2 separate regions of the Homo sapiens genome follow, and region 1 is linked to region 2. Evidence: fine-mapped expression QTL. A gene starts in region 2. The other region holds a variant in brackets. All regions are shown on one strand. Distances are between the middles of the regions.

Evidence for each region. PIP is the estimated chance that this variant, and not a neighbour inherited with it, causes the effect.
Region 1: its variant is fine-mapped to the expression of ARL1 in whole blood (INTERVAL, PIP 0.98).

Annotation. Positions count from the first base shown.
Region 1 is chr12:101,363,660-101,366,576 of GRCh38, reverse strand. UTP20 (UTP20 small subunit processome component) reads right to left here. Exons shown (of 62, transcript NM_014503.3): 45 at 2,834-2,917; 46 at 952-1,118; 47 at 1-19. Among named protein-coding and RNA genes, the nearest start is that of ARL1, 43 kb to the left of the region's middle. The variant G/C (reference allele first, on the strand shown) is at 1,637.
Region 2 is chr12:101,406,040-101,408,956 of GRCh38, reverse strand. ARL1 (ARF like GTPase 1) reads left to right here and starts at 1,185. Exons shown (of 6, transcript NM_001177.6): 1 at 1,185-1,315. The coding sequence starts at 1,312. RefSeq lists enhancers at 1,523-1,572, 1,653-1,702.

The DNA.
Region 1 (2,917 bases), 42 kb after region 2:
TGCTGGGGCTACTGGATTTCTGTCAATCACGTGGCATGAGAAGAGGGTAAAGAACACTGTCAGCTGCATTCCAAGAAGTTAGAGTGGCCCTTCTAAAGTGACGAGAGCCCAGCACTAAATAATGTGCCATTTGCTTGGGTTTTGCCCCTCCCCAAACCCCCAAACCATGAGATACAGAAGAGATTATTAGGCTGTTGATTAAGGTTACTAGGACAACATATTTATATTAGGATCAACAGCAGGATACTCCCTTGTTTGATTTCTGAAAATAAATGCCAACGAGTCTCTCTTAGACCATAGAAGCAAGACCAAAATGAAGTTTACTAATATATAAGATTTTGTTTTTTGAGACAGTCTTGCTCTGTTGCCCAGCCTGGAGTACAGTGGCGCGATCTCGGCTCACTCCAACCTCCGCCTCCCGGGTTCAAGTGATTCTCCTGCCTCAGCCTCCTGTGTAGCTGGGATTACAGGTGCCCAGCACCATGCCTGGCTAATTTTTGTGTTTTTAGTAGAGAATGGGGTTTCACCAAGTTGGCCAGGCTGGTCTTGAACTCCTGACCTCAGGTGATCTGCCCTCCTTAGCTTCCCAAAGTGCTGGGATTACAGGCATGAGCCACTGTGCCCAGCCTGTAAGATATTTTAAAATCTTTTAAGGTCTCAATCTCTGTTTAATCAAAATACAAGATACAGATTTAAAATCTATCCTATCTTTGAATCAATAAATCTTTTTAAAAAATGGTATCAGAGAAATGCCAAAATAATTGGCTGTTGTCACTGCTACCTCATTTATGAGAAAATCTCATGTTGAAATGTATCACACCATAAAGTACCATCTGAGAACTCAGGTGGATATAATTTTATTTTTTACTAAAGCAAATTATTAAAACAACCCACAGAATGGCTTATCAGACGCAGAGACCTAAATGACAGTTTGTTTTTTTTCCAACTTACTTTTCTTTCTCTGTTAACAGGGGAAGATTTTCACTGATCAAACCATAACTGAGTAATAGAATGGATTCAGCTGTCATTTCCTGATTTACAATTAATCCCACTGTGATTCGGCGTAAAGTTTCATGAACTTTCCGGGCCAGTTTCAAACTCGTGGTATTTTGTAAGATCTAAAGGCAAAACATAAATGTCATGCTGAGATGACACAGAAATGCATTTTGATTTGTCATAATGGCAGTTTTCTTTTATATATTAGCTTTCTAATATACGTTTGGCTTTCTCCTAATTAAAAAGCATTCTTAATATAATTTCAAACACAGATATAACATATAAGGTGAAAGTTAACTATAATCTCAATCCCAGGAAGAACCACTGTGCAGGCTTGTGAGCCTCGGGGTTTCCTCCACTCCCTCCCTGTTCTCTGCTGGTGAGGCCTCAGGGCACAATGCCAGAGATATGAGACTTCTAAGTTAACATCAACTCTCCTGGTACATTAACAGGGGTGACTTAGAGGCAAACACACACACACACACACACACACACACACACACACACAATCAACAAAATGTATTCACTCCTCATAGAAAACCACGAGAATGAAGTGCTACTATGGCCAAGCCTCAGGGTCTGATATCAATTATTGGGCCAAATCAGAGGAACCTAATGGGAACCAGGATCAGCAACCTCA[G/C]GAAATACTTGGTGCTTCAGAGCTATTATCTTGCATGAGACATGGTATTAACTCTCAATACCTTGGAGGGACTTTTTAATATACATCACGGATATATGTGCTCTGTTGACTCTTTTTCATCCTGAAAATGCATCTAACATTCTTAGATAAGGCTCACATAAAACTAAATGCATTCTAGGAGTAATTATGGAGTTCATCTAGCACCAGAACATTTAGACCTAATGTAATTCATGTCAATAGATAGTGCTCTTTGCTCTAGTTTTAATACACAAAACTAATAAATTAATAACATTTACTGGATGTTCACCTCTGCAACAGGCACAGAAATCAATAGGAAGGTGGGTAAATTACATTCCCTGATCTTCAGGAGGCAGAATGAAACCATGGTAGGAATGTGAACTTGGATCAGAAAGATCTGGAACTAAACCCTATACCCTGACTTTTCTCTTTAACCATGTTCCTTTCTACCTTTCCAAGCCTGAATTTTCTTATTTGTAAAATGGAAGTACCATCAATCTCACAGGGTGTGCAGATTAGGAGAGATAATGTAGCAGTGCTTAGAATATAATATGTCAATAAATGCCAGTTTTCTTCCTCTTGGCAACCTGGAAGTGGCAATTTGTCCAAAGGCTTTCTAATATATATTTACTCCTAACTAAAATGAATTTCTTTGTAAATGTAAATATACATTTTTAAATAGAGACAGGGTCTTGCTATGTTACCCAGGCTGGTCTCAAACTCCTGGGCTCAAGCAATTCCTCCCGCCTTGGCTTTCCAAATTGCTGGAATTACAGGTGTGAGCCACCATGCTTGGCCTAAAACAAATTCTTAATAAAATTTCAAACATGGACATAACATATAAGGAAATGTTACTCACAACCTCAACCTCAAAGATAAGCACTATGCGGCTTGTGTGCCTCTGGATTTCTTCATGTTCTTAGCTGCTGACTTGACCCAGCTATAATATTCACCTGCACTCAATTCTTGTTGCCTTTCTTTCTCATCTCATGGTTTACATAGGGGACTATGATTTTTGAATCAAAGCATTCACTCACTGGCCATATGGTCCTGGGGCCCTATCACCAAAGGAAATCATGGGTGATCAAGAACAGTGTTTCAGTTTGCCCCGCATGGTTCCTTTTAGGAACTCATGAGATTGTAATGCTGTGATCTCCAGAATTGCATTTACGTCCTTACCTCTTTTAATGGAAGGATGAGTTTTGTAACCTGATCTTTTCCTACAAACTTGCCGAGGATTTCATAAGAGTCGTAACTTTTGCT
Region 2 (2,917 bases):
ATAAATAAAAACATAATATGCAAAGGTATTAATAAGATTTGGAAGAAAACCTAAGAGAGTATTAACAGTAGTGACTACTGGGGATCACCGAGATACAGGGTATTAGGGATGGAAGGTTTACTTTTCTCTTTTTTTTTTTGAGACGGAGTGTCGCTCTGTCGCCCAGGCTGGAGTGCAGTGGCACGATCTCGACTCACTGCAACTTCTGCCTCCTGAGTTCAAGTGATTCTCCTGCCTCAGCCTCCTGAGTAGCTGGGACTACAGGCGCCCGCCACCACGCCTGGTGAATTTTCTGTATTTTTAGTAGAGACGGGGTTTCACCGTGTTAGCCACGATGGTCTCGATCTCCTGACCTCGTGATCCGCCCGCCTCGGCCTCCCAAAGTGCTGGGATTACAGGCGTGAGCCACCGCGCCCGGCCGGAAGGTTCACTTTTCAATGGATCTTTGGGAAGTTTCAAAACATACATGCTCAACCTTTAAAAATTTCTCTAGGGGAAATCCCTTCTCCACATCCTATAGGTGTGCTTCCTTCTTCCTCTCCACACACTTCACTATCAAAACCTACATTACTTCCAACAGTCGACCCTCGAGGGAATAAGTCCCTGGTCCCCACGATCGGGACCAGCCAGTCCACACTGCCGACCCCTGAAAGGCGGTCTCAGCTGCTCGGTCAGCGAGAAAAAAAGCCGGCGAGGTCCTCGTCCTGCAGGCCACAGCGAAGACAAAAACCTCTGGTTACTGGCCTCAGGTGCAAGGCTGCTCCGCATTGGCAGCGCGGTACCATTCCTATTATTATTACGTAGTCTTGTTTCTTTCTGGGAGAAAGCACCTAGGGAGAGTTGGGCTGGCCCCGCAGGGCGCTCCGGGACACGCGTCCTCTGCAACGCCGCAGCCTGCGCCAGCGTTCGACCGGGACGACTCATCGAGGCCCGACTCGCATTTTCAGTTGTCAGATTCGCCACTTTTTGGTGTCAGAATTTAAAACAAAAATTCCAATTTCTCTATTTCAGAAGCTCTTTCTGTCCAGAAAAACACAAGCAGGAGAGACTTCAGGTTTTTGAATTATTCGTCTCTTCTGGCCTCCACGGTATCTACATCCAGTGAGCGGGGACCGTGAGTCGAAAGCGACGACGCGGATGCTCAGGCCACCGTTCCCGGCGCGCAGTCGCAGCTGACCCTCGCTCCCGCCCCCGCCTGGAGTCCGACGTGGAAGTTGCTGGCTGACTGGGCTTGCGAGGAAACCGCCTCGGAGCTGCAGCCGAAGGCCAAGGAATCACTGAAGATCGGCGAGGGAGGACAGGGGGTTCATCATGGGTGAGGGGTTCGAGAAGGGCACCTGGGCGCGCTCGAGGGAGCCGCGGCCGAGGGCTGGGGTGCAGAGGAGGAGAGGGGCCGGCCAGGATACCCTAGAGTAGCCAGCTCCTCAGGGGGCGGGTCGCGGAGGACTTGACTCACTTTGGATCTTCATCTGTAGGGGTGGATCCGGCCTCTCGCGTTCTCCTCCGTCCTCTCTCGGTTCCCCTTGATTCCTGCGGGGTCCAGGGACCCGGACAGCTTGGGGACGTCCGCAGAGCCTGGGTTCGAGTTCTTTACCCTTATCATGAAGTTTTCCCTCATCCCCAGCTCCACTTGCTGGGCAGAGTTGTTCTTGCGGAGGCTGGCAACGCGTCAGTCGCAGGTTCGCCGAGGTTTCTTGGTGAAAGATGAGCTGCGGCCCCAGAGTGGAAGCTTAATCATTCTCTTTACCAGGGGCGCTGGGACGGCGTCAGTTTGAAAAACCTGAGAGCAGGTGTTGCTTATGTTGTTTTATGGCCAGTTTGGCATTTGTCTGCTAATCTGCTGTAGCGTTTCATGTAATAATACGGGTATTTCTAGTCGGCAAATGAAACTTTATTCTTGGTTCTTGGCCCGCTGATTGAGGGAACTGCATTCTCACAAGCATCAGGTAACACCCTCGCCCCGCTAGAACCCAAGTGAGGGTGCACATTCTTTAACTCGTTTCTCACCCTCCAAATGAAGGTGCAGATTCTTTGGCTTGGTTAAATCCCTCCACAGTTTTCTGGGGAGCATACTTCTTGCTCCCAAGCATCACAGGCGCTGTCCTGTCTTCCATAACCGCCTTCAGTTTTGTTCCGCCTCTCTTCTACCTGTAAATGGTAGAAAGGACTTTGTCAAGTCACACCTATTCTGTTGAACTTTCCCAAGGTTCTCTAGCCCATGGTGTTGTTCATTTTTCAACTCGCAGCTCTTAGTTATGCCATGTCTTTGCCAAATAACAGTGTGGCATCACTTCTGATGTTAACTATTTTTTTTTGTATTAATGTAACTTGTTTTTAATCTTCTCTAATGGCTCTGGATGGGAAAAGGACTGTGCTTTTTATCCTACACAATACTTGGTGTACAGGAAGCTTTCTGGGAATATTTTGTGATGCATTGGATAGAGCTTTATTATTTTTAAAAGTGGGTTTTTTGTCAAAAATAGTTATTGTTTTCAGCTTTTTTCTCAATTTCTTGTACTAGCTATATTGCTTCGTGGAGAACTCTGATTGAAGTTGGTTATAGTGGTACTGCTGCTGTACAGTACTTTTCCTGTGCGAGGATTACATTGTCCCACTATCCTCCTTACTGGCCCCTTGGTTTTTAGGGGTAGTGAGGGGATCATGCTAAAATATTCCTATTCTGCTGATTAGAAAATGAGATTCCCAAAGGCCGCGGCCATATTTCTCTTATTATTTGGTTTATCTTCTGTGCCTGCATGACACAATAGTAACATAACTAAGGACATAGTAACATAACTAATTACTTGTTTGATATTGAATAATATATTTCATTGGGAGGAAAAATATGCACCTACGCATCCAGGAAATTATAATATTTAATTTGGTATTTAGCTCTCAAAGGACAAGGTTAGATGTT